4 linked regions of the Homo sapiens genome follow. The protein of the gene in region 2 purifies or fractionates together with the protein of the main gene of each other region. This does not show direct contact. Each region holds a gene or a part of one and is shown on either strand. Other genes may lie near its edges.

Region 1 (7,218 bases), on a different chromosome or scaffold from region 2:
TAGTATGGAAACAACTTATGTAACTAATTTATCATATAATTTTTTTATTAGGAAACTCCTAATTTAAAAACTGTCCTAATTTGTATTTCATCTAAAAAGTAAGTGATAGAAGGCTTAATTTTGAACAAATTCAATATTCTTAATTCTCTTGTGGGAACTGGAAAAGTTATACAAAGTCCATAATTTTAAAAGTAATTATATGTACAATTAAAGAAAAAAACCCATCTAGTACTTGGAATACATTTTTTCCCAAATGCATTAATTCAAAAAGATACATATATTTAAGAGTATTATTTTCTACTATTGAACTTTTAGTAGCAAATACACAGAATTTCAGCTACATTGTAATTTAAGTAGGCTTTTTGCAGGAAGGCCATTGTTTATAGAACTCTTTGTGAAATGGTTTCTATGGAGAAATGAGTTTCCAAGATGGAATTTAGATCCTTGGCAAAAACCTCTGCTGCTTAGCAGGAAGGGAATGACCCACTTCTCTTGGCATCTCAGGTGCCTGGGAGCCCTTTCTCAACCACACCCTGGAGTAGGGGGCTAGCTTGCATCCCTGCGTTCTCCTCATTACAAAAAAGAATTCTGAGAAGGAAGGTGATCTATTCCCTATGCAACCTCAGTGTCCACTGAGAAGGGAATCTTGTGGTATGGAACTATGTGGCAAAAAGGTACAAAGTATTCTTACACCTGGAATTCTTAACCTGGGGCATGCATTTTATCTAAGAGGAGAGGCTGAAGTTTCCTCCAACTTTCCATTCTAAAAAGGAACAGACATTGCTTTCAAGTGGTTTTAACTGACTTTCATTTTTGATTGGCATTTTCTTCCTATGTACAAGAAGAGTAGAAAAATCAAACATAGTTTCTAGTTGATGTTAGTAAATATAATCATTACTAAAAGTGGCCATTTGGGGAGTAATACTGTAAATACCTTAAACAACTACAGAAATGGTAATTTGTTTCTCCTGAAACCCTTAAATATTATATATAAAGTAATGGCAGTGATCAGTCCTTTAAGAGTAAGGCAACTTTCTGGATGTCACTGTTATCTTAAAGGTCTACGGAGGAAATAATATCTTGTGACATTTCTAACTTCCTAATGGTAATTGTGGAGACACAGAAGTCTGAGGCTGCCTATGGTCAAACATGACTGTAAACATTACCCACTTTTTTTTTTTTTTTTTGAGACAGAGTCTTGCTCTGCTGCCCAGGCTGGAGTGCAATAGTGGTTCGATCTTGGCTCACTGCAACCTCCATCCCCCAGGTTCAAGCAATTCTCCTGCCTCAGCCTCCCAAGTAGCTGGGATTACAGCTACGTACTAAAACACCCAGCTAATTTTTGTATTTTTCGTAAAGACAGGGTCTCACCAGTTTGGCCAGGCTGATCTTGAACTCCTGACCTCAGGTGATCCACTCACCTTGGCCTCCCAAAGTGCTGGGATTACAGGCGTGAGCCACTTTGCCCGGTCTACTCTCTCTTTCTTAAAACCTTCTTTTCCTTTAATTTTCTACCTAGCAGCTTTATTATCATTTCTGGGTCTTTTCCTTCTCCTATCACTAATTAAATAAGGAAAAATTTGAAGATTTCATTTTAATCCTTTTTAAAATTGATTCCCATATCTCTATTCCTTTCTAACCTGCACTTTCAGCTTCTATTTGGGTGCTTCCACTGGGATAGCTCATCAGCAACTAAAACTTTGCATCTTTAAATCTAAACTCATCTCTTCTCACTCAATAGCCAAACTTTGGACCTCTCCATTTCTCTTAATGTTAACACTATTTCCTGTCATCAAAACGAAAACTGGTCACCTTTTATTTCTCCCTCTCTGTTCCACACATCCACTATGTTGCATAGTCAGTCCATTTTTGCTTCATGTTGTTCATACTCGCCTTTCCTTTCCTCTGCCATTGGTATCCCTTATCACCTCATGCCTACCTGTTACTAATTCTTGTAACTGGCATCCCTGTCTTAAGTGTTTCTCCCTTCAATTTATCTGACATAATTCTTTCTGATAATCATCTAAGAGCTTGTTAAATTTTCTAGGAAAAATAAGCCACAAAGATATGTCCATTACCTCTTCATTTATCTAGTTATTTAAAAACATGTATGCCTTTAGCAGGGCTATTTGGTACATACATTTTTAAAAACACATATGCTTCTGCAGGACTGTTTGGTACCTGTTCCCACTCACACTAAGCTTTACATCAAAATTTAATGGAAAGAGACAAAAAGGAGAATGACTACTTACCATACTTTTCCCCTCAGCCTTTTGATGAAAAACCTATTAAAGGTGCATTTTGGATTTACTTATCTTACTGAATTCAGACTAGTATAAATTGCCTCCAACACAACAAAATTATGGGTTATTTTAAATCCACTGTATTCCAAATAGCTCGAATTCCTTCTTAGTGCATACCCCTTAGTTAAAATAATTTGATTTTCACTGAAAATGTCCAAGGGACACAAACAAATGCAGTTAGCATGATTACCTCTGGTAAGTGGAGAGAGGAAGAATTTTGCATACAGTACTTTTTCTTAAAAAGCACGTCTTTTTATGATAAAAAACTAATTTTAAATAGTATACCTAGAAAACGTTACACATATACCCTAGGGACTTTTTCTTGTTCTGTAATATGTTAGTATCAAATAGCAACATATTTAAATCAAGAAACTTGTGGAAGAAAGTGTCCCTTCTTGGCCTTTCCTTGATACATTCACTGTGTGACACAGCTTGTTATGTCTAAGTTCTTTTCCTTATTCATCCTGACACAGAAGCAAAGTAGCTCCTGAAGGGGGAAGGGGAGGGATGGAGGGGCGGGGAGGGGGGGATTGACAGAGAGAGAAAGACAGAGAGAAAGAGAGACAGGAACCATTTAGTCCTAGGGCAAATCGCTGAGCGTTTATTAGAAAAAAATGCATGCTCATCATATGGAAAAATAATTAGCACATAAAAAGAATAAAGTTCTCATGTAAGGATCATTAAGACTTTTTTAAAAAAAAACAACACAATGGCTTTTTATAAAATGACTCAAAGGCTTTATCAATAAGGAGTTTCCGATCACTCAGAAAACATCCTCTCTCTCTCTCTCACACACACACACACACACACACACACTCTCAAACACACACGAGTGCGGGCGATTATCAAGGCTTGTAAAGGAATAACTGGTTAAAATAGTTGCAAAATGTTTTCTTCGTTATCCTCATCACACCTCTCCTGACAGCTTTATTTCTTCTCTCGAACATAAATTTCCTCCTTATGCTTTTCTGGATGTAATTTCCTATTGTAATCTGAATTTTCTGGGAAGATAATTGCCACAGGAGTGGATATAGCTCTACTAAAAGGATAAGCGGGCAATCTACATTCGAGTTTTTTTCTTTTTTTAAACAAAAACTGATGGACTCCGCCAAAGGGGAGTCTGGACGGTTTATGGGAATGCAGAGCTGGGTGGAAAGTCTTTCTGCGAGTGGGAAGTATCCCTTCTCCTCGTTTGCCCAGGTTCTCCCCACGCCTCGGGCTGCGGCCAGCTTTGGCTCGCTTCTCTGTCTTTGCAACCTGGTTCCTGACTCTGCCAATTCATATTACAGATGGGCCTGCGGGTGCTGCACCGGGGTGACAGCAGTCCTGATGGGCCGTGCAATTCTGTAGTGGATCCAAGTCGGTACACGGATGCACAGATACCTTTGACTGCCTCTCGCAGGACTTGGATTTTTCCTGTTTTTTGGTGCGGCATCCGGGTGGTTCTGACACCCTAAGACTGCTCCTCTGCTCCTCCTCTCCCGCAAGGCTTCCACTCCAGGGCCCCTGTCCCCCTTTCGCTAGCACTCGCGCACCCCTCGCGCTTCCTCCCGCCGGGGAACCCTCGCATTTCCTCCTTCCCCTCCCAGCCTTGCCTTCTTCCCCGCCCGCCTCCAGCCACATGACCGGAAGGGCTCCGCCACGCGACGTCACCGACGTCCGCGCCCCCGCCCCTGGCCTCCCCCCACCCTGCACGCAAGGGGCGGCCGGCTGAGGGGCGAACGTGGTCCGCGCGCTCAGCGTTCCCCAACCAGAGCTCGCCAGAGCGCCGCGGCACTCGCCGCCCAGCGGGGCGCGCAGGTTCCCGGATGTGCGGCGCTCGCGGAAGCCCCGCCCCCGCCCCGCGCGCTGCAGCACTCCGCTTTCCCCTCCCTCTCCGCCCTCCCCTTTTTTCGTGCCTTGAGGTTGCGGGTCAGCGCGAGCCGCTGCAGTGAGTCCGTCACGGCTCCGGCGCGAGCGCGAGGCTGCAGCCCCCGAGTTTCCCGGCCGTCTTCGCCCCCTCTCCCCCTCCTTTCTTCTTCTCTGCCTCTCCTGCCTCTCGCCGCTGCTCCTCCCGCGCTCTCCGGCTCTGAATCTCGACCTTAATTTATTTCCCCCTACCCTGCCCGCTCCCTCGCGTGCCCAATCGCCCGGCCGGCGCGGGCCCCGCGGCGCCGCCTCCCCTCCCCCACGCGCGCCCCCTCCCCGCCGGCGACCCGAGGGCCGCAGCTGGGCCGCCGCCGCCGTTTCCTGCGAGCCAGCCTGAGCGCAACACTTCTCCGAGCCAGCGAGCCAGCGAGCCGCCGACCCGCCGAGCAAAATGGTGAGACCTTGGCTTCCTCGATGCACCATCCCTCCCCCTACTGCCGCCGTCCGGGTCGGGTGCGGGGGCGAGCCCCGACGCCCCCGGTCGGCTGTCCCCCGTGGAAAATTCCAGAGACCCGGGCCCGGCGGGTCCCGCGGCGGTTGCGGGCGAGCCGGAGAGGGCGGCGGGGCGGCTGCTGACAGGACGGCGGCGGGGCCCCCGCGCCCGCCCCCGGCCTCTGCGGGGCGCCCCTCTGCTGCTCGGCCGCCGCCCCGCCGTCGCCCCACCCCCGCGCCGCCGGTCCCGCCCGGCATCGACCCCCGCGGGCACCGCTGACCATCAGCCCGGCGCACTCTCCTTCTCGCGACCCTCCTCCACGTGGAGCACCCCCCTCCCCTCCACACTCACTCTGTTTTTCGAGTTCGAGGGTATTCTGAAATCCTTTGGAAATAACAATATGTGGCAAATGGCACTTTACATAAGACCCACTTACTCTCCAGAGCTGCTGCTGCTTCCACTCACTGCCTGTTTCCCAGCAGTGAGTCTTGGCAGGGAACCCTGCCACTCACTTCCCCTCTCCTGCGAGCGTCGGTTTAGCTGCGGTGCGCAGCCCTGCGGGGTTTCCGTTCGCTGCTGCTTTGCTCGCTGCCCTGGCGAACCGGAAAGATCCAAGGTGTTTGTTCACGAAAACATACGCGAACTTGGTTTGGGAGAAATGGGGGCGCTTAATTTTTCATGCTTCCGTTACTACCAAGGGTTTTTTCATTTTCTTTGGTACCTTCTTGTGTCTCTCTCTTGGAGTGGTTGTTTTTGAATCATGGCGATTTTAATTTGTCTTTCCTTACCCTCACATTAATCCCTAGGTAGAATTCGCTGCTGTAGTGTTTCAGACCGACGCTAGGGGTGTGTCTCCCGCCTCTGTCGCTGCAGCCAAGAAATCAACGACGCCCTTTTAGCCTGTTACCTTACCGGTTCTCTCGCTCGGGGAAGCCCTAGTCGTTAGTTTCCTCTTTGTAATCAAGAGTTGTATACACAGTAGAGAAAGTTCAGAGTGCTATTCCGCGTATATCAGATACTCCATCATGCGATTCAGTTATTAGGCTTTCTCTAAAAGTCTTTGAACAGTTGTCAGAAGACTTAAACTGGTTGACGGTGGGTAATTTCTCGCATCTTTTCCACTGTATGGTATCCCACCCTGTATGTAGAATTTAAGTGCTTCAGTGTACGTGGTGGATTACTGAAGGGAGGAATGCTGTTGCTTACAACTTAAAATCGATTTGGTGAAATCGATTTTAAGGGAAGAACGTGAAATTAGAATATTCAGGTAAGTCAGCTTTTATTTAAAATATAGGGCAAATGAGTAAGTGCTTACTGGTGCACTTAAAACCCAGATTAAGAGCAGACTTAAATGATTGCCGATTTTGATGTGTAGAGAAAGTTTTTCCTTGCCAACTTGCGAGGCAGCTCAGAGAGGCAACTTTGGCACCTGAAAGTCACAAAACAATTTAGGAAGATCATAGCCATTCATCATATAATCTTTTTGTTGGCATAGTCTTTTGAAGTGAAGAATTGCATTTCAGTGCTTTAATAGAATTTCCTTATGCACATGCTTTACTTGAAGGTCAGGATCTTGAAGATCTTTGTTCATTGCAGGGAATGTTTTTACTTAGCTTTATAAACAGCACATTTGAGGAACAATGATCTAGCCTTTTGTTGTTTATATATTATACAGCGAAGTGGTATGGTTTCCAAATAGTAACTCTCTTGCGGTGCACCCCGTCCTCTGTTTTTTGAACAACAGACTGAAACTGGGAAGTTCTCTTTTAGCTCTTCAATTTCTTATTTTCCTGTTAACTCTGTTTTCTTGTCTTTTAAAATATTTTACGGTGTATCAGACGATGTTGTTTCCTGCCAGGTCATTATGTTCCTTTTCTTCCCAGCTCCCTTTTCAGTATTTATTTCCTAATTCAACTGTTGGGTTTTTTTTTTTCCTCTTTCATCCTCCCAATACCATTTCAGGACCTACATAATGTTGGCAGTGGCTTTCCAACTTTAGGGTTATTTTGGTCTGCTGAATACAGTACTGGTTTGAAAGTATCAAGACCATACCCATAACTCAACTTTGCCATATGGGATGTCGATTAACCCAAATAAATCAGGCTTTGGAGTGATCTGGTTAATTTTTCTGGTTAATTGAACATACAATTCTGAAAACTTTCACACCCTTTGGAAAATCTCTCTTAGAACTCTTATTATTTACATTCTGTCAACAGCATTTACAGTATGAAATATCACTAGTTAATTCAAGTATGGAAAGTAAAAAGGCTTATAAGATTTAAATGTACTCTCAAGGATCTTTTCTGACAGGTATTAATTTTAGTTGGTGCCTTAAACGTAGTTTATTTTTTTTTTTCCTGAAAGTTAAAGTCTTTCCCTCCCTTCACCCTTATTTGAGTTTTAAATTGTTAAGCGTCCAGGGAGAATGAAGGTTATATGTTAAAAAAAAAAATCTTGTAAATAGTGAGCTCCTAGGAATTTCCCCTGAACGAGGTGTTTTATATATGTTTTTGTTGAAATAGATAATACGGATTTTGTTCTGGATACTTAAATGAACATAATATAAAGGTAATT
Region 2 (7,005 bases):
ACTGAGAAGACCCATGGAACTTCACTGAGATCTTTTCTTCCCCAAGAAGAAGGGAGAAGGCCAGCACTGTGTTCCCCTGGAATCTTTCACTACTCTAGCTTCGAAGTATTTAGAATTCCATTCATTCCTTTAGGGTTCTGTGCCCTAAAACCACCCCTTAAAAATGACAAAACAAATATATTGAGCATTTTCTCATATGAGTCAGGCCTTTTATCACATTTAACCCTCACAATTCTGAAGAACACATTTTAATTTCACAAATGAGAAAACTGAGACCCAGAACAATTAAATATTAAATAACCTAATCAAAGTCATACAATTAGTAAGAGAGAGAAAGGGGATTCAAACTCAGATTACCCAAGAAATTATCTCCTGTTTATTCATGGTCAAACCAATTTCTGGTAATCCAAGAAGAATAATGTGAAAACAGACTAACATTTGGTAAGTGCTTAATATTTATAAAGTACTTTACATAAGGAATCTCATTTATCCCTTATGACATTTTCAAATAAACAGACTGCAAATCCAAGGAGGTAGTTTAGGCAAGGTCACACAGCTAGTAAGTAGCTTTGAATTTCCCTACCTCCACCCTTAAAAAAAATTTCTTTTTTTTTAGAGACAGGTCTTGCTCTGTCACTCAGGCTACTAGAATGCAGTGGTGTGATTGATCATAGTTCACTGCAGCCTCAAACTCCTGGGCTCAAGCAACCCTCCCACCCCAACCTCCTGAGTAGCTGGGACTACAGGCATGCGCCACTGCACTGAGTTATTTTTTTTTTTTTTAATTTTTAGTACAGGCAGAGTCTCACTATGTAGCCCAAGCTGGTCTCAAATCCCTGGCCTCCAGCAATCCTCCTGCCTTGGCCTGTCAAACTGCTGAGATTACATGTGTGAGCCACTACACCCAGCCCCACCTCCAGCCTTATTAGCTGCTACCTAACACCAATAAACAGCATTTTACAACTGAAAAAACAGCTCCAGCCCAGGATCACACATCTAATCAGAGGCAAAGTCAGGATTAGGATCCAGGTTTCCTAACTCTACTTGGCTGTGCAGATGCTGTTATAGTCTCTGGGTGCTGCCAGAATTGTGGAACCCTGACTTTTTCCTATTTATAACAATTTGCCAAAACTGAAATTGGATTCCAGTGGTAGATGGATGGTGGTACACTACTTCTGAAGGGGTAAACGGACCTCCACAGGGTTTCAGCTCTGGCTTCAGGTGGACTTATTTGGTATCCCTCTGCAATACTCGGGTGATACTCTGCTGATGCCCACCTGGTGGCATGGTCCTCCCTGATCCACTTTTCCAACAGCCTCTGCTCTCACTGCATCCACTGAATGAGGCACTCTGCTTTAGCACACGTCCCATTTCCCCCTGCCTCCTTACCGTTTTCTCTTCAGTAATAAGACCCCATCTGTTCACCCAGCTCCAATTGCCTTCCCTGATGGTTTAGCCAGGATCAAAGCCCCTCTGCCATGCCTCTTAAAGTCCTGTTGGTTCTTCCCTAAATGCCATCTGTTTTACTCACTCCCCCACCCTAGCCTTCCCTTCCTGGATGTTACTAACTCAAGGATGACAGAGCTGCTTTCTCTCAGGCTCTGTCTCTTTGGTTTGAATTAGGTCCAGAGTAAAAGTCCCCTTGGTTATTTCCTTCTTGGCCATGAGTTAATTATTCCCATATATTAAGGCATTCTCCCCAGAGTGTATCAGCTGACATACACAAAAAAACATCTGGAGAAGGTGATAAAATGAAATGTGTAGATTAACTAGGCCATCTAGCCAACATCAGAATGTTTAGTGGAGAAATATTCAGGAAAGATGCTACCTAGCAAGGTGGGACATCACCAATGAGGCCTAAGATGCTGAGCAGAGGGTTGAAAGAAGAGCAGGAGGCCGGGCACAGTGGCTCACACCTGTAATGCCAGCACTTGGGGAGACCAAGGTGGGCCTAGGTGGCAGAGGCTGCAGTGAGCTGAGATCGCGCCATTGCACTCCAGCCATTGCACTCCAGGCAACAAGAGCGAAACTCCGTCGAAAAAAAAAAAAAAGAGAGAGAAAGAAAGAAAGAAAAAAGAAAGAGCAGGAATCTTAGGACATCTTTACTTCATAACTGACAGGGCAGAAGATCTTTCTCAGAAAAGGAGTGGGAGGTAGGGCATTTAGGCACAGAAACGAGTAGGGCCAACAGCTAGAAATAGCGGAACATGAAGAACTGATGACATTTCAGGGAGAACTGACAGGAATAATAGGCATGGGTCTATCAATCTCTAGCATCATAGGATTAAAAGGGTACTCAAAGCATTCAGGTAAAATCCCAACCCACTGTACAAATGAAATAAACATTTCTTCAAGGGGGCGGCATGCCTCTAACTGAACACCTCCAGCAATGAGAAATGCCCAACTTTAGGAAATCAGAGTTTTGGAGGTGTATGTGAATGAGGTTCCTTTATTTTCTTTTTTTTAATTTTATTCTTTTTCTCTTTTTTTTTTTTTTTTTTTGAGACAGGGTCTCACTCTGTTGTCCAGGCTGGAGTGTAGTGGTGCAATCTCGACTCACTGCAACCTCCACCTCCCGGGGTTCAAGCGATTCTCCCGCCTCAGCCTCCTGAATAGCTGGGATTACAGGCACGTGCCACCACGCCCAGCTAATTTTTGTATTTTTAGTAGAGACTGGGTTTCACCATTTTGGTCAGACTTGTCTCGAACTCCTGACCTAGTGATCCACCTGCCTCGGCCTCCCAAAGTTCTGGGATTACAGGCGTGAGCCACCACGCCCGGCCCAATTCATTTTCAATTCAACAAATATCTATATTTATATCTCAATAGCTAGTGAGTGCCTACTACGTGCCAGATACTAGACACTGGACTGTAAGTATGAATAATATAGACATGGCCCCTCCCCTGTGGATCTTATAATGAGGAAGACGAGCACATAAACATGCAAGTAGAACAGGGGAAGTAGAGGGTGCTGCTCAAACACAGGGTGGGGCACTCAACAGACAGCCCAGCATCTAGATGTCTTCACAAAACAGGCAATGTCTAGGCTGGGGCTTGCCGACGAGTTAGCTGAGGGCAGGGTGGAGAGGCCCAAGGGAGTAGGAGGCTTCCCAGCTTCCAAAGAAGTTAAGAGTGTTGCAAAAAAGTGGAGTCCAGATCTTGAAGGGGAGAGTGGGCTTAGGTCCGGGGGCATGTGAAGCGCCCTCCGTCTGCTGCGCTGGGGGAGATGCTGCGGTATCCTGGAGTGGTGTGAAGGAGGCCAGGACCTGCGATGGGAAGACGGAGACGGGAAGGCCCTGGTGGCCCAAGGGATGACCAAAAGTGAAGCGCTCCTCTATGACAAGATTGAGACAAAAATAAAGGAATAAAGTTCTGAATGCGGTGGGAGAGTCTCCTCCGTCCTCCCTCACCTTTGCTGGGCAGGAACCAAACCTGCTTGCCCTCGGTTTGCCCCATCACCGACGGGTGTGGTCGGGGGCACAGCTCTTCGCCCTTCTTCTCAGATAGGAAAACTGAGGCCCAGGGTCCTGAGGCAGAAATCAAGGTTTTCTCCTCGAAATGGCCTCCCAAGAGGCTGCCCGGGGTCTCACACGATCCTTCGAGGGTCCTGCGGCCTGCCCCACGCCTCCGCCAGCCATCCTCGGCTGGTCGTCTTTGCTATGGAAACGGTCCTCCCGCCCTGCTCCGCGCCTCCGTGTCTTCAGTGCACTCTGGGAAATGCAGTCCCGCTCTGTTTGCCTACCCGCGGCGTGAGCCCACTCCGCGTCCTTAAAGAACTATAAGTCCCAGAAGGCTGTGCGAAACTCCGCCGGTCTCTGGGGGATGTGGTCTTGAAGGAGAGACCCAGGAACCTGCGGGCGGGGCCGGAGGGAGAGGGGAGGACGCCCCCAATGGGCAGACTCCTGGGCGGGGTCCGGGTCACCATTGGCTCCGGCGGCGCGAGGGAGGCGGGGTCAGAGGAATGAAGCGCGGAGCTGTTCGCCGCTCCAGGTGCTGAGTCTGAGGGAGGCTCCGGACCCGAGAGCCGCGAGAGCCGCCGCCGCTGCGGCCGCCGCCAGATCTGCGGCCGGGAGCCCGGGCTGTGAGGAGCCGGGAGGAGCGGGGTGCGCTGCCGGGCGCTGACCGCCCTCCCGCCCGCCGTCAGAGGTCAGTGCTGCTGAATTCGCTTTTGTTTTCTTGGGGAGCGGGCGAACCGAGGCGTGAGGGGCTGGGGAGTTGACGGGACGTGTTCTCGTTGCTCTCAGGACCGCGGGTCCCGGACAGCCGCCGACTGACTAGGGGCCTCCCGTGGCCGGGCGCCGGAGGTCGGAGCAGCTTGGGTTAGTTTTCGTTTTATCATGGAGAAGGCTCTTGGGTATGAGGGGCGAGGGCTGGGGGTCACCCCCACCCCCCATCTCTCCTGGGAGAGCGAGGAGGCTTGGACCCTCCCTCCCGCTGTGCCTGGCGACGGGGCTGCTCGGATTACTCAGGACGGGAGGATGAGGTGTTGTGGGATGAAGGGACTCGAGGCAGGGGGACCCCTCCCCGCAACACTTCGGCTGCTCGAGGTTACAAAGGAGTCTGGTGGTGATGGATGAGATCGCGGACCGCTCCCCTAGCCCAGACCCTCCCAGGGGTATTCAGGAAGGGCTGCTTGGGATGCAGGGAAGACCCTTGCCCAGGCCCCTTCCTCCACACTCGCCCCCCTCCCTATTCCCCCCTCCTCCCTTGGCCCTAGGGTTTTGTAAAGAGGAGGATCGAGGATGTGGAAGAGACAGAGGACTCTTACCCCTCCCACTTGGACCCTCCTAGGTTACTGGTGAAGGGTGGAATTGGAATGTGGCAGGGAAACGCTGGGAGACCCCTCCCCATCCTTCTCGGAGTCGCGGGTGGAGGAAAGCACTGACACTCGGAATCCCCCGCGCTCGGGCCCGCGCCGAGGGTTGGGTGGCCTGGGTGTGAGAGGTAGTGTAGGGGGATGTACGAGGACAGGAGGGACCCCTCCCCACCTCTCCCCACCTGGGCCTTATCTCCCAGGCCCTCCCTACCTGGATCCAGGCCTGGGGCTCTAAGTCGAGACGACCCGCCCTAGCCCACCACGCCCCGGGGACCGAGCCTCTGGCACCGCAGCTGGGGGCCAATCCCAGATGGGCATGTACAGAGCGGGACGGGGCGGGTCTCCCCTCAAGCACTCAAGAGCTCCAGGTAGACGCTACCCCCAACCTCGTGCCCGCGAATCTTTGGGGGCTGCTCCGCTCCGATGCAGGGCGCACCCCAAACCGAGGCTCGGGGACCTGCTTCCAGGACGCGCGGTGGCTGTTCCAAGGCATGGGGCTTTCGCGCTCGGCCCAGGCATCCTCGAGAGGACAAAGCGGCGGTCGCCGCACTGGCAGGCCTGCGCCGCGGGCTGGGCGGGGGGCGCGGCCGCGGAGGGGGGGCTTCGGGCGCGGCGCGGGCAGCTTCCACGGAAACGTGCCAGGAGCGGGGCGGGAGACAAAGCGCACCGGCTTCTAGCGGGCCCGCGCGAGCCGGGATGGAAAATCCCGAGGGAGGAGGCGGCTGAGCCAGGGCAGGGCACTATGCCCCCACATCTTTCCCTTTTCCCATACCCCCTACCCTAAGGCCAGCCAGGCACCCAGGATTCTGTGCACGCGATGGTGACCAGGGCCCCTTCGGGGGCCGAGAGTGGGGGTGTTCAGGACCTGTGACCACTAGGACAGGGACAGGTGGGGGCTCCACCTTGAGCAAGGGGCCTGGAGTTCACAGGGCGTGAGTGGGCCAGGGTCCAGAGGGACATCCTGACTGGACCCTCCCACGCCCCATCAGCCATGTTAGGTCAAATTTGGTTCTGGGGAGGGGATGTGTTTAAGTGTGTGAGGGTTTGCATGGATGATGGTGTGGGTCAGAGTGTGGGTGTGAATGTGTGTGACTAGATGAATGTACCCATGTGTGTTTCAGTCTTCATGTGTGTGGCACGGCCAGAGCTTGCGCTTCGGGCTGTGTGTGTGTGTGTGTGTGTGTGTGTGTGTGTGTGTAGATGAACCACTTACTCATTTACTGATGGGCTTGGATGTTGTGGGGGTGGGGAGCAGGGTAGTCACATCTTTAACTCTCAAGCCACAGCAATGACCTAGGGTCCGAGTGGATGCCCTCAGGGTGAAGGTAGCTTCAGGTTGCTTTGTGCCTAGCCTGCCTGGCCTGCGAAAGGCCCAGTAAGTGGGGAATTCACAACTATGTGGAGCCTTCTTCAGCCCTTCTGAGGTCTCAGGTCTGACCCTGACATACTCACCAGTGCCCTGCCCTTCCCATTTTATCAGAAGCTTTATCCTACTGTAATAGGCTGCTCCAAAGACCAGAATTCTGCCCCCTCACCACCACCATGTGTTTCCAAGTGAGGCTTGGCAGGGGACTCATCAACAGAGTCACTTATGATGTGGGTGCAGGACTACGTTGCAAGGCAACTTTTGTCACTTTGGCCTCCATGTCTGGAAGGGCATGGCGCTGACGTTGCTGGTCAGTCACAGGCAGTGTCTCAGAAATACTAGGTGTCTCAGAAATACTGTTTCCTCAGAGAGGAAACAAGGGTAACACAGACATACACTACAAGGTGATACCCCTAGAGGATAAGCATGCCCCTCCCAGACCTGCCCTCCCCAATAAGTGACCCTGATTTCACAGCACTTGCATAGCAAAGGTACTGTGCAGCTTTGAGATAATCTTCACAGAGATCTACTTCCCATAGGATGAGAGACCAGATGATGGCCAGGAGAACAACAGAAAGAGCAAGTACTACACAATGTAGCCACCATCTATCTAGCCCAGGCTGCCTGATCCAGTTCCCACAAGTATCCACTCCCAGTGTCCACAGCGACCTCTGCTGGAAAGAGGTTAAACCAGTCACAATTTGGCAACTAACACTCCCCCATGGTGTAGAGGCTCAGAGTGAGTGTGAGCATTGTCAGGTAAAATCACAAATCTTTCTATTGGGGGGCTCCCTCCTACCTTCAGAGTGTTGAGTTGATGTTC
Region 3 (7,027 bases), on a different chromosome or scaffold from region 2:
TTAATTTAATACATACATTGCACTTATAGAAAATAATATTTAGATTTTTTAATAAAATGATTAAGTTCCTTTAAAAAGTTATTATGAAAATATAGGTCACTTTCCAGTGGTAAAAATAGAATTTTCAATGAAATCTACTTGAACTTCCCTTAATCACTTATATGGCAAATATAAATATAAGGCTTTTTATATTCTTTTGTGACACATTCGCTAGGATTTATGGCCTATAGCAGGACAGATACCCAAGCCATTATATTGCCAACTCAAAACATCAGATGGCAACAGTGCCTTGATATGTTAAACATCACAAAGTATTTGGACAAGTGCCTCAACTGGAATTCTATTACGATAGAGAAAGGAAGATTCATAGAAATTGGATGAATTGGATGGTATTTCCAATTCATTCCTACCACTGATTAATACAATAATAACCATTCATTTTTATTATTGCTTTACCAGCTATAATAGCATGTAGTTCATCATCTAAGTTTCTGATCCAGCGCAGGAAGCAACTAGTACCCTAGTTAAGGAGAAAATACAATGACTTCAGTTATTTTATTTCTAGAAATAAAAGCATAAAACAAAAACAACTATAATGAATAAATTCATCAGATTACCTTGCAGGCCAATTAGTGATCTCATCTAAATCAAACTGCATACATGATTGGAAAAATTATGAACAATAATATTTTATAAAGTTATTACTCTATAGACTCTATTAAGAAATTACACATAATATTTTTATTGCACTGATTTTGCAAAATAAATCCATAAATTTCACTTTTGCCTAGCTATCGAATGCTGGGAAAAGCATCACTCCCATTTTAACAAGAACAAAAAGCTGGCTAAACTACAAGTCTGTCAGGCCACAATTCTATACCCAGAGAAAATATTTCTTAAAACTGAAGGTGAAACAAAGATTTTTTCCAGACAGATAAAAGCTGAGAAAATCCACCACCAGCAGATCTGAGTTCACAGAAATGTTAAAGGTAGAAGGAATATGACACCAGACAAAAATTTAGAACTATGAAAAGAAATGCAGAGTTCTGGAAATAGAAAAGTGAAGGTAAACTTAGAAGACATATTTTTCTTATCTTTACTTGCACTAAAAGTGAATTAACTATCTAAAATAGGGGTCAGCAAACTATGGCTCACTAGCCAAATCTGGCCTGCTACTTGTTTTTATATGGCTCAGGAGCTAATAATCATTTTTACAGTCTTAAAAAATGAAAAATAAATCAAAAGAATGACAACATCTTATGATGTGAAAATTACATCAAGTTCTAATTATAGTGTGATAAAGTTTTATTGAAACGCAGCCACACTTGTTCATTTATATATTGTCTATAGCTGCTTTCAGACTGTAACAGCAGAGCTGGGTAGTTATGACAGAGACCATATGGTCACAAAGCCTAATAGTCATGATCTGGCTCTTCACAGAAAAAGTGTGTTGACCTCTGATCTAAAACAAAAATAGTAACAACATATCGTGGAGTATATAACATATATAAAGATAAACGATAAATGTTAAATCCTATAACAAAGGATGGGAAGGAGAAATTCAAAGTACAGTGTTGTAAGGTCTGACACTGTATGTGAAGTAGTATAACATTACTTGAAGATTGGCTGATACATTAAAAATGTATATTATAAAATGTTAAGGCAGCCACTAAATTAAAGCAAGTACAAATAATAAGGCAATAGTGAAGCTAGAATGGAGCCATAGTAAAATACACAATCAATCCAGAAGGCTGAAAAAGAAAAAAAAAAAAAGAGGAAGAAAAAAAGGAACAAATACAAAAAAACTAACATGAAAGTAGGTTTAAACTCAATCACATCATAAACTATATATATTTACACATAATACATTATATGTAAACAGTATAAACATGCCAATTAGAAGACAGAGATGATCAGATTCTATAAGAAAGAAAGGGCCAACTCTCTGCAGCCTAAAAGAAACCAGTTTTTCAAACAAAGACAGAAAAAGTGAAAGAATGGAAACATTATAACATCAAACAATAATTTTGAAAAGTTGAAGTAGCTATATTAATATTAAACATAGACTATAAAACAATGAATATTACCAGAGATAAAGAGGAACCTTAACAAATTTTTAAAAAAGGGTCAGTTAACCAAGAAACAGAAAAAACAAGGTTTATTTGCCTGCTCTTCTCTTAAGATTCTTATAAAGATACTATAGCATGGGCAATTTGTTTTTGAAAAATCACATACAATTTTTGAACACACCACGTGAATATTTCCTGAGATTTTCTGACCCGGTTGTATTTTTGTTACTTTAATACCATTTGTTTGTATTACCTAAGTAAATAAATAGTAACAGAAATGAAAAATAAAAAAGCAAAACAAAACACACTCTGAGATAAGCTAGATGGCAGAGAATAACCAACCTGGGGCTAAAAATGTTGGTGATAAACCACATGTAAACAGTTAAGAGTTTATGTTAAGAATAAATACAAATGCTATAACGTGAGAAATTTTTTTAAATGTGAATATAAACATGCAATTACCAATAATCTGTCCTTAACTCTTGTATATTCAAATACATTAGTAATGCTTCTTAGTCAAACCATATTGAAAATGTTTTTAATATTAGTAATATTTCATAACAAGTGATTCATTATCTATAGTTTATTATTCCTCCTTTCCATTTCAAAATATTTTATCCATACCTACCTTTTATGAGTAAATTTTTACAGAAAACAACACTGTCCATGTTACCCTAAATAATTCCAGAATTGAGTTTTCCCATCATTAATTTTCTCTGCATTTAACAACAAAAAGTGTGTATATGTGTACGTATATATATATATATAGACATATATATATACCCACAGAATATATATTCTTCTTTCAATATATTTATTAAAATATACATTAAAACAGTCAAAGAAATAAAGTATGAATAAAATATATATTTATAATTTTTTTGTAGACAGAGGGAAGGTAGGCAAATCTCATCTACAAAAATGCACACTCCTTTAATGTCCTTAATTCATTAGTCAGACATATTGGAATGCCTGCTGCATGTTCCTACAAAATGAGACACAATCCCTGTGCTCAAAACACATATCTTTTATAGAGTAAAATTAAGGCAAAAGTGAGCAATTTGTGATTGTAGATTAAAAAAAAATCTATTTTTTTCACAGTCATAGAGGCTGGGAGTTCAAAGATCACGGTATGCTCAAGGTTCGCTCCTTCTCTCTCCATGGCTAGCAGATGGCCACCTTCTCCCTGTGTCCTCACATGGTCATTCCTCTGTGTGTGTATATGTTCTAATCTCCTTTTTTTTTTTTTTTAATTGCAACTTTTTTTTTAGATTCGGGGGATACATATGCAGGTTTGTTACAGGGGTATATTGTGTGGTGCAGAGGTTTGGGGTATGATTGATCCCAATACCCAGGCACTAGTTTTTCAATCCTTGCCCTGCTCCCTCCCTCCCTCCTCTAGAAGCCCCCAGTGACTTCTGTTGTCATCTTTATGTCCATGTGTTAGGTCAACATTAATTAACACACTTTACCATTTAGAGATTATATTCAGATTTAGAATCTTTTAAGCGTTTAATAAAATATGATTTACATATTAGTGATTCCATTATGCAAAAGGCCATCACTTAAAGTTGCAGAGTACTAGGTTAAGAATGATCTCTACATATATGTTTAGGCGTGGGCTTATATATGTATGGACACTTTTATAGGAACATACAGAATGGGGTGGAAGACTGTGAACTCTGGTTATTTGAGACAGTGTAGTAGGAACTGTGAGTGGGTGGAAGAAGGGACCTAAGTCATTGCTTATATAAGTTACAATAGAAAATCCTCACCGATTCTATCAAGTGTTTATTTCAGCTAGAAAGATCTGAAATACATTTAAATTAATAACCAGGCAGTAAATATGATAAAAAAATAAATAAGCCAGGCATATTAATATCATTTTTGATATTGGAAATATCCAAAAAATTCATATTTTCTGAGTGTCTATATATTGAAAAAGAAAATGAGTCTGACAATGTGTAATACCATATGTAAATGCAAACATGTCTACACACTCGAGTATATTAAATAATATTTTAAAAGAAGAAATTTCTGTACCCTCACTTCCCAATATATTGTATAGATTTGGTTATGTCAAGATATGTATGAATATTCCAGAAAGAAGCATTAAAAAATAAGTGAACTAAGGCCATCTCTCATTCTAACAATAGCAATGTTATTTATTTCCCATTTTTCTTTCCTCTTCTAAAAGCCTTACCTTGTATATACTAACAAAAGAGCCAAGAAAAGCTCCAAGCTGGAAGTTTTCTTTATTGTAGAAGAGAGAAAGTAGCCGAGATGGCTGTGTAAACAGATGCCTAAATGCAGAAGGGATTCGGAGGCAGCACTGGATCAAGTACCCCACGCTAAACATTCTGATGAAACCCTAGAGGAAATTTGGAGAAAAACCTGATTTACAAACAAATTTTGAAGTTTTTGATAGAATACGAATTTTACCATCTCAAAATAGAAACAAGACAAAACAAATTTAATCTAAGTTTATAGCACAGCAAAATAAAGCCTTAAAACCTCAAACAATAATTTTAAAACAATTACCTTAAAAATAAGAGTGAAATCTTGGAATGAGTTTACTTTCTTTGATTTACAAAGACTTAAAAAGTCTCACAAGCACTGGCCAAGCTTGCCTATGCACCAAAATTCCATTTCTTGACATTTTGTTGACAATAATCAGGATTTTAAATTCCTAAACCACAAATGAGTTTTACATACAAAAGCACTAAAATTCCAAAAACTACTTAATAAAACCAAATGCTCTTGAAAATGTTAACAGAAAACTGCTCTTAATGATTAGCATGAGTAGGGATTATTTTCATAGAAAAATATTTTCATTATTTTTTCAGACCTTTGGTGCTAACTTTTACAATGGTCAGGTAAGAAGAACTTCCAGGGGGCAGGGGGTGCAGAATTATGTCTAGGTTTTCATTCCTGTCGGGCTAAAACATCTCTAGGGAGGAGTAGCTTTAAAGTATATTAAACTAAACTTGAAAAAGCAAACCCACTACAAATCCATATTTGCTGTCAACATTTCTCTATATTTCCTTCAACTGTCCATAGTGCAAAAGAGATTTGGAGAGGATGACTATTACTGGTCAATTTCATTTCTGTATTTAGGAAGATGAATTTTAGATGTCTGAGAGACTGTAAGTAATTAATATTGAAACTGAAAAATTTCAATCAGCATAAAACATTAACAAAAAGAATAGTACTTTCTGTACAGTTCAACCAATACATTGTTAAAACCGGTGTCCCATCCTCCTCCTCTCTAACTCTGACTGGAATTGGAAAATATCTACACTCATAGCAGTGTATGCCCAAAAGTTAGGTTTGTATTTTCTGGACTGCAGCTTTCTTTTCCAGAAAAAAAAATTAATTACTATGAGGAAACACTGGTTAATTTACCTGAAACTACCTAATGCCTTATTAAAACACAAAATCAAATTGTCCAATCAATTACTGTGAATTCTCAAGCATTTGCTTAACTGAAATTGCCTAGTATTTAAATGAATGAAATGGTCACACTTTCATCTTGCCATTGATAACCTTATAATCTAAGGATTTAGGGATTATAATTACATTACAATCTTTTTCATGCTATTTTCAAGAGAACTATTCATCCACCCATTAATGTACTTAGAAAATATTTGCTGAATGCCTGTTATCTGCCAAACATTACACTAGATGCTGGGGATAACAGTGATGAGGAGGGCACAGAGTTCTTGCCTTTGTGGAGCTTTCATGCTCATTACTGGAAAAGAAAACAACTAAGTAAACAAATACAAAAGATTATAATAAATGTTAGGAAGGAAGTAATCAAGACACTAGGATAGACATTAACAGGGCAATCTATATTAGATTAAATGTTAAGGGCAGACATGTAAATGATATGACATTTAAATAGACCCAAAAGAGAAGAAGCTAGAATGAGAAAAACATTTCAGACAGCTCAGACAGAAAACATAAAGCCAATTAAGAGGCTGGCAGGTATAAGGAACCAAGAAAAAGTTAGTGTGAATGGAGTACAGAATGTTGAGGACAATGTAATTAATATGAGTATTTATTCAGGGATGTGATTTAACATATGGTGTAATTAAGTTTGTAAAATAATGAGGTCCATTGTCAAAAAATTTCACTACCATGTTTATGGTTTAAATTCCTCACCCACAGGTCTCCAATAGTTTTACATTCATGGATATAATACGGCATTCCAATGTATACATAAATTGCCAAGTTTACAGTACTGGTACACATTTGAAAGAATCACTAGTTTTTTATTGCTTGGAAATTCTCACTAACTTTCTCATACAATTTTTTTAATATCACCTTCCCCACGCCAAATTTCTCAAATACCTCTGATTTAATCCAAATACTCCTCTTAGTTCCCCATCTAAAGTTTTCCTTTGAACTACAATCATGTTCAGTTGGAAGGAATAATAAATCCAGGTTATCAGCTGACTTGGACTGCCAGCAATGTTACTTTTTTTTTTTTTTTGGCCACTTTAAACTGAGGCAGGAAATCAAATTTGGAAAGAGTGTCAGAAAGTATTGCACAACTGAGGAACAAAACAAAACAAAACCCTACTATTTTATCCTTGGTCATTTTGGGGAATTGTGAAGCTAAGTGTGGGCTGGGCTAACGGCACTGTCAACACTGGGCCATAGATGTTTACCTTCATGAGCACTAATGTGGGACAGTTCCTCCTTTCTAGAGTAACCACCAAGGGGCTGTCTTTTGGGGTGCTGCACAACTCTGTTCTTCTCATCATCAACTGAGTAGAGACTAAAATTGCAAGAAGAACATAAACTTTCTACAGCATTGGAACTGTTAGAGCACCATTCAAAATAAAGGAACTTGGCCGGGCGCGGTGGTTCACACCTGTAATCCTAGTGTTGGGAGGTCAAGGCAGGCAGATCCCCTAAGGTCAAGAGTTCAAGACCAGCCTGGCCAACATGGT
Region 4 (7,027 bases), on a different chromosome or scaffold from region 2:
ATCCCTTAGTTATAAACACTAAGATAACAGCAAGCAGATTTCCTGAAACCAGTGCTGCCATCTCACAAACATAGAGGGAAGGCACATTTACCAAGCTGTGATAAAGTCGGTATAGGGACAAATGCAAGAACCTGCAAAGATGAAGGACTTTAACTTACTAAACAGTCATAAAGGAAAAAGGAATTTTGGCACGTTCAAGGAGGTATACGTTCTGAGTTAGAGCAAAGTCCCTCCTCTTGTCCCAAAGTAGGACTTACTGCATTACTGGGTTATTAAGTTTAAGTGTTCTGCTGGTCTTCCTTCCTGGGAGCCAAGCTGGCTGCAGAGAAGGAGCTCCTGAACAGACTAGGGCTGGATGATGGATGTGTGGGTCTGCCACCTCTGCTCAAGGAGCGGAGCTCTGGAGGGTGTAGTCGGCCTGGGCACCTCCTTCCCACCCCTAGGGACAGCTGGCATTGAGACAGGAGATGGGCTCTCCTCAGGCTCATGCACCACATCCAATCCAACAGCCTGTCTGGCAGCAATGTCTCCATACGCCCAGAGATGCAAGACTCTATCCCCTACCCTCTTATCTCCGCTACTCACTGAGATGCAGGGGACAAAATCTGTTGCTCAACAGAGTTAACACAGTTTTTGGGTGATCCATTTTTCCCAGCTCTAACCTGGTGCCTTATGGAAAATGTCTGCTTGCATAAGGATAATAGGAAGAGCTCAAGATGGATCAGTATAGAACAAGACTGTACAAGGGGGCAGAGCACCCTCGGCCCAATGGAGTACTTGCAATAACCCCACCCTTCCTATAGCCACAAAGGTACACCTGGAGGTGGTGAGCCTCTGATATTCATGGGCGTGTGACTGCCAGAGCTAGAAACACACCCTCTATAAAATCCTGGTAAATGAACATGTGAACTTTTAAAAGATAAACTTCATTCAAGAGCATTCAATAGGAGCTCACCCAACACATCAACAGGTTTGCAACAGAAGCAGTCCATGTGTGCTCTGGTGTCAGACAGCTCAGGTTCAAACCCGAGCCCCACCTCTTCTTAGCTGTGTAAAAATGCAATAGTAGTTTAACCTCTCTGGGCCTGTTTCCTCCTCTAAGAAGGATAATAATAGTACCTATTTCTGACGATGCTGAGGATTACATGAAATTACATGTGAAAAAAAAAACACTAGAAAAGTGCCTCCTGCCATATGATAAGCATCCAATGAGCTCTAGACTGTACTTACTTGAAGGTCAATTGAATACCTGAAGGTATCTCGCACTCAGAGTGCCCAAAACGGAGTACCTTTTCCTCCTACAGCTGTATCAAAGTATAACTGATATACAAAGAATTGTACATATTTAATGTGATGAATTAAATGTGCAATAAATATGTAATAACCCATCACATAATTAATGTGCTGGGTTTGGATGTATGCAAATACCCATGATACAATCACAACAACCAAGGAGGGAGACATGTCCAACACCTCCCATACTTTCCTTGTGTCCTTTTGTTTGTTTTGTGTGCGTATTAAGAAAACTTAATATGAAATCTACTCTCTTAACAAATTTTGAAGTGCACAATACAATATCATCAACTATAGGCATTACATTGTACAGCAGATCTCTAGAACTGATTTATCCCATGTAACTGAAACTTTATACCCATTAAACAAGAGCTCCTCATCTTCCCCACCCCTCAGCCCCTGGTAGCCACTATAGGTTGAGCATCTCAGATCTGAAAATCCAAAATCCAATATGTTCCAAAATCCAAAGCTTTTTGAGTACTGACATGACATTCAAAGGAAATGCTCATTAAAGCATTTCAGATTTCAGATTTCCAGATTTGGGAGGTTCAGCCACTAATTCCAAAATCCAAAAAAAAATCTTCAAACTGAAACACTTCTGGTCCCAAGCATTTCAGATTAGGGATACTCAACCAGTATTATATTCTTGCTCTTATGAACAAAAGCGAGTTCTTGATATGGCCCCCAAACAGCCCCTCCTTTTGTATCCTTGTCTTATTCATGACAACTCCATTCTTCTGATTATTCAGGCCCAAACCCTTGGAGTCATCTCTTCCCTTTCTCTCACTCCAAAGACTATGAGCTCTTTCTTCACAATATATCCAGAATATACAGTGCTATCATCTTGATCCAAGATACTACTGTCTTGTCAGATCACTGAAACCTCCTAACTGGTTTCTTTGCTTCTGCCCTTAACACCACATGTCTATTCTCAATGCAGCAGCCAAAATGGTCCTATTTAAATGTAAGCCAGATCACATCGAAGCTCTCTGCTCAGAACCCTGCACAATTGCTTCCCACTTCACACACAGTAAAACCCCAATATTTTACAAATAGCTCAGAAGAATCTAAATGATCTGCCGTCTCCTTCCCCACTTCTCTGACCTCATCTCCTGCTACTCTCATTTACTCTTCTCTAGCCAAACCAGCCTCTTAGTTCTTCCTCAACACACTCATGCCTCCAGGCCTTTGCAATTACCATTCCCTTTACCCAGAACGTTTTCCCCCTCTATAGATGCCTGCATAATTGGCTTTCTTACTTCTTTCATGTCTATACCCAAAAGTCAACTCCTCAGTGATCTCTTCCCTGGATGGAAACCTTGTTTTAAACTTCACCTTTTCCTTGATATCTCATAGCCTCCTTCCTTGCTTTTTCTCCTTAACACTTATCACTGTCTAATATGCCTTTTTTTTTTTTTTGAAACAGGGTCTTACTCTGTCCCCCAGACTGGAGTGCAGTGGCATGATCTCAGCTCACCACAGCCTCTACCTCCCAGGCCCAAATGATCCTCCCACCTTAGCCTCCATGAGTAGTTGGGACTACAGGTGCATGCCAGCACTCCTCGCTAATTTTTGTAGAGATGGGTTTTTGCCATGTTGCCCAGGCTGGTCTCGAACTCTTAGGCTCAAATGATCAGACCGCCTTGGCCTCCCAAAGTAGTGGGATTACAGGCATGAGCCACCATGCTTGGCACCTTGTCTTTTATTTATTTATTTTATAATCTATATTCTCTATTAGATATAAACCCTATGAGAGTAGGTATTTTTGTCTGTAACCACTGCTCTCTTTCCAGGACTTAGAATAGTGCCTCACACATAGCAGATGCTCAATAAAGATTTGTTGACTAAAATGAATTGACAGAGGGCTCAGGGCTTTCTTAAAGCATTAGGTGTCCCTGCCAACTGGAAGTCAATAAAAACTGAAGACCAATCAGCCCTTAAAGTATAAGTCAACTGAAACATGTAATTACATTTATATTTTCAAATAATATTTCAGCCATCTGTTTATTCTACAAAGTAAAATGTACCCGTATTTTCAGCTTTGATTAAAAATATAAACTACCCTCTGTTTGACCTTTTGATTGAGCCACACTTCTGTTCAGCACTAGGTCAATGAAGCATGACTGGAATATTAAACGGTGCTTCTATTCTTGGTTCAGCCTATGAGTCAGTTTCTTTTTCATTTCTCCTTCCTTTCAGTGGCCAAATAGATATATCGACAGGCAATGAATTATTACTATGACAGATGTTAAGTTTCATGAAAATGAAAGGGTAAGTCACCATTCAGAAGATATAACATGCATCTTGAAGGAGGAAATTTGAAAAAAAAAAAAAAAAAAAAAAAAAGCTTTCTTGACTAACAGTAATTCTAGAAGATAGACCAGATAACTGAAAACAAATGCTACTGGCAAATAAGAGGATTTACTTTCTAAAATTTTCACTTTCAGAGATGAGAGTTTAAAAGGAAGAGAAATTTTATGCCCAAAGAATAAAATCTCAATTCCCTAAGGAAAGCTCCATTCAATCACCATGAATCACCAGTAACGGAGCTAAAAGAAATCTGAAGCTGGCATTTACATACAGAATGGTATGTTAGTAGTGAAACCATAAACCATCCAAAGAACTGGATTAAAAATAAAATAACAAGTCTAGTCAGCCAGTTTGGATTCTGGAGAGAAAAAACTAACATTTTAGTTAGAAAATAGTGTGATAGAGAATAAAGAGAGTTAAGAGCTTTGGATTTGGGCAGTCATAAACTCCTGTCCAGGTTTTGCCATCTAGAAGCTGTTTGACCTTGGATAAGTTACTTAACTACTCCGAACCTCAGTTTCCTAAACTATAAAACACAAGTCATAATACCTAGAGTTGTTATAGAGATGAGATGAGTTAGAATGTGAAGACCTTTGACATGGTAAGGGATCAATAAATGATAGTTCCTTGCCTAGATTGTCCAGATATAAGTCTAAACTGAAAGAATAGTATAGGGAATTGTCACCACTGGACTGCTTCAGGACAGATGTCCCTGAAATATTCTGCCAACGCAGGTAAATACCTTAACTTGATCCTGAGAATGGCCTGCAAAACAAAAGGAAACACTAAATCCAAAGATGAAGAAAAAGCCAGAAGGGAAAAATTCAACAAAGGTTGGAACCATCCCCTGGGTCAGGCACTTCCCAGTCTTATCCAGTCTCAGCACAATAGACTGGAATGCCATTGCTCACTGTTTTCTGACAACACACTTCTTGGTTTTCCAGGACAGAGAGGGTGGAGATGTCTTTGGTACCTGTTTGGTTTGTTTTTGCTTTTAATCACTCAAATCCACCCTCCATCCATTCATTCAATCTTCCACACATTTCATCTCTCATCATGCATTTATGAAGCAGCTACTGTATGAATGTGGGACATACACCAAGCATTTGAGAAGATACATGGATAGATATTTTACTTTTTAGGAGAGATTTGCAGAATTGTAGATGTCACCTATCTAATCCAACATTCCATTTGTGTGTGTGTGTGTGTGTGTGTGTGTGCGTGCACACGCCTAGCACCTACTGAAGTAACACCTTATATACATATTAATATTTACTAAGAGTTTACCATATTCCAGGTACCATGCCACATGCTCTCATGTGTTATCTTGTTTATTTGTCACAACCTCTCTATAAACACTTTTACAACCTTTAATGAACAGATCCAAAAAATGGGGCTGGAAGTCACATAGCTTGTAAATGGAAGAGCAGGGATCTGAATTAAGTCTCTTAATTAAGGAGTAAGAATCAGGATTGTCCTGTTCACTGCATTCCTTACACAGAGATTTAAGTGTATGATGCTCTATATATCTGTTCTCTGACACAATGAAAAGAAGGCTGAGGTTGGAACAAATTGAACAGTATTTCTGTTTCAGGTTGTATAAGCCATGGATGGAAATTAAAAATCAAGGACTTAATCAAGGTTCTAACTTGAAACAACCATTTGCATTTACTAAGATCTGAAGTAAGACCTCACTGTGCCCTCCAGGAAAATGTTTTTGCAGTTAACCAGAATATCCCCTTCATTCCAGAGTAAAGTGACACTTGAGCAACCTTTATGCAGCCAAGTAAGTGCTCCCACTTGTCCTATGACTGTCAGAAAATAGAAGTGGAGTAGAAATTAGAATTCTCACATAAAAGATGAAAATTAGAGTCCTAAGACCATTAGCGCAGTGGATCCATTGTGAGATCAAAGAATCTCCACAGTGTATCAGAAGAGTAATCAGTAATGAGTTCAAAAATAAGCTGTGTGACCCTAAAACACCTCAGTTAACCTCCCTTAGCCAGTTTCCTCCTTTCTACAATGAAGATAATATCTACCTCACAGTATTTTTTAAGATTGAACAAATATACACTATTGTTACTGAATATATAAATTATATATTATATAATTAATATGTATAATATATTAATTATATAATTTATATATTCAGTTCCTTCCATGTTTATAAAATGATAGAGCTTTATATGTTGGCTTCTGGCATAAATCAGCAATGCACTTTAGAAAGGTATCATTGGCATCTTATCTAAAAATTCTTCCATTAAGTGGAAAGGAGTCAACAAACTAAAAGGTTTGAGGCTTCCTGCACTAAACCAGAATCCAGTTCTCAGGTTTCTGGAGTCTTGACTAGAACTCCTCCAAACCATCTCCTGTAGGCAGAGCAGAGATCAAAATCATTTGGGATAGTTTCAAAGGCCAAAGCTAAGACTGATGGAGTGGCTGCAGAGCAGGGTTCCAGCTCTGCATAGGGAGCATGTTTGTAACAGTTGCTGCTGGCCAGCCCTGGTGCAAGCTTCTGAAACAGGAAGCGCCCCACTGAGAAAACTGAAGCAGAACATCTCACCTGCTCCTGCCTGATTGATCCTCCCAACATCAAATTATTTTATTCAACACTTATCGCGTGCTTTCTATAAGCTGGGCACTAGGAAAAGAATGAGTAAGATGCAATCATCATTCCTCAAGGGCTCAAGTTGGGGAGACAGATACATAAGCAGATAATTACAAAACAACATGGTAAGTATGAAAATAGAAAAACTATAAGAGCACTGAAGGGGTGAACCTAACTTGGGAGGTGGATACAGTTCAGGTGGGGAATTCTTTCTGGAGGAGGTGACACCTCAGCAGAGTCTTAAAGGATGGAGTAAGGGCAGGAAGTGAAGGATAAGATGGGGTCTGTGTAGAAAGGGAATTTGGGCAAAGGGAATCAGCATGAGCTAAGAAACAGACATCACAAACAGTCTGGTTTATGAGAGGAACTCCAGGCAGCTGGATAATGCTAGAACATAAAATATGAGGGTGGAGCATGGTGAGAAACTAGATTGGAGCTGGAGACAGGAGCTAGGCTATGGAGAGCCTGTAAACTGCATTCTGCAGTGTGAACTTTGTCCTGTAGGGGCTGGGCAGGCAACACTTTACAGATTTTCAGCACAAGAGTGACTAAGTTTCTGTGATCTTTGACTTAGGAGATTCTTTTCAAAGGGAAACTGCAGTGTGGACTCAAAAGCTGCCGAACTGGGCTTTGGGAATTCAGTGTCACTGCTGCCCTGCCTGACTCATCACTGGAGGCAAGCACTGAGTTCCTTTGGTCTCCTGCCTCTTCCTCCCCTGTGTGCGGGTCCTCTTGGTAACACTGACCTCATAAAAAGGTGATGTGGGTACAAGGAGACTCAGCATTATAAAATGCTTGGAAGCCGCCAAGGGTACA

The links.
Region 1: the proteins of SMPD3 (region 2) and PPP3R1 purify together in Homo sapiens (affinity purification with mass spectrometry; 2 studies listed by BioGRID and IntAct, with this or other methods). This does not show direct contact.
Region 3: the proteins of SMPD3 (region 2) and TMEM135 purify together in Homo sapiens (affinity purification with mass spectrometry; 2 studies listed by BioGRID and IntAct, with this or other methods). This does not show direct contact.
Region 4: the proteins of SMPD3 (region 2) and ENDOD1 purify together in Homo sapiens (affinity purification with mass spectrometry; 2 studies listed by BioGRID and IntAct, with this or other methods). This does not show direct contact.

What each region holds. Positions count from the first base shown.
Region 1 is NC_000002.12:68,249,512-68,256,729, reverse strand, and holds the start of PPP3R1 (calcineurin subunit B type 1), read left to right. Parts: upstream 1-4,197; 5' UTR 4,198-4,602; coding exon 4,603-4,605; intron 4,606-4,995; exon of another isoform or gene 4,996-5,127; intron 5,128-7,218. UniProt on the Homo sapiens protein: Regulatory subunit of calcineurin, a calcium-dependent, calmodulin stimulated protein phosphatase. Confers calcium sensitivity.
Region 2 is NC_000016.10:68,445,494-68,452,498, reverse strand, and holds the start of SMPD3 (sphingomyelin phosphodiesterase 3), read left to right. Parts: upstream 1-3,990; 5' UTR 3,991-4,146; intron 4,147-7,005. UniProt on the Homo sapiens protein: Catalyzes the hydrolysis of sphingomyelin to form ceramide and phosphocholine. Ceramide mediates numerous cellular functions, such as apoptosis and growth arrest, and is capable of regulating these 2 cellular events independently.
Region 3 is NC_000011.10:87,306,918-87,313,944, reverse strand, and holds part of TMEM135 (transmembrane protein 135), read right to left. Parts: intron 4,441-7,027; coding exon 4,273-4,440; intron 521-4,272; coding exon 457-520; intron 1-456.
Region 4 is NC_000011.10:95,092,840-95,099,866, reverse strand, and holds part of ENDOD1 (endonuclease domain-containing 1 protein precursor), read right to left. Parts: intron 1-7,027. UniProt on the Homo sapiens protein: May act as a DNase and a RNase. Plays a role in the modulation of innate immune signaling through the cGAS-STING pathway by interacting with RNF26.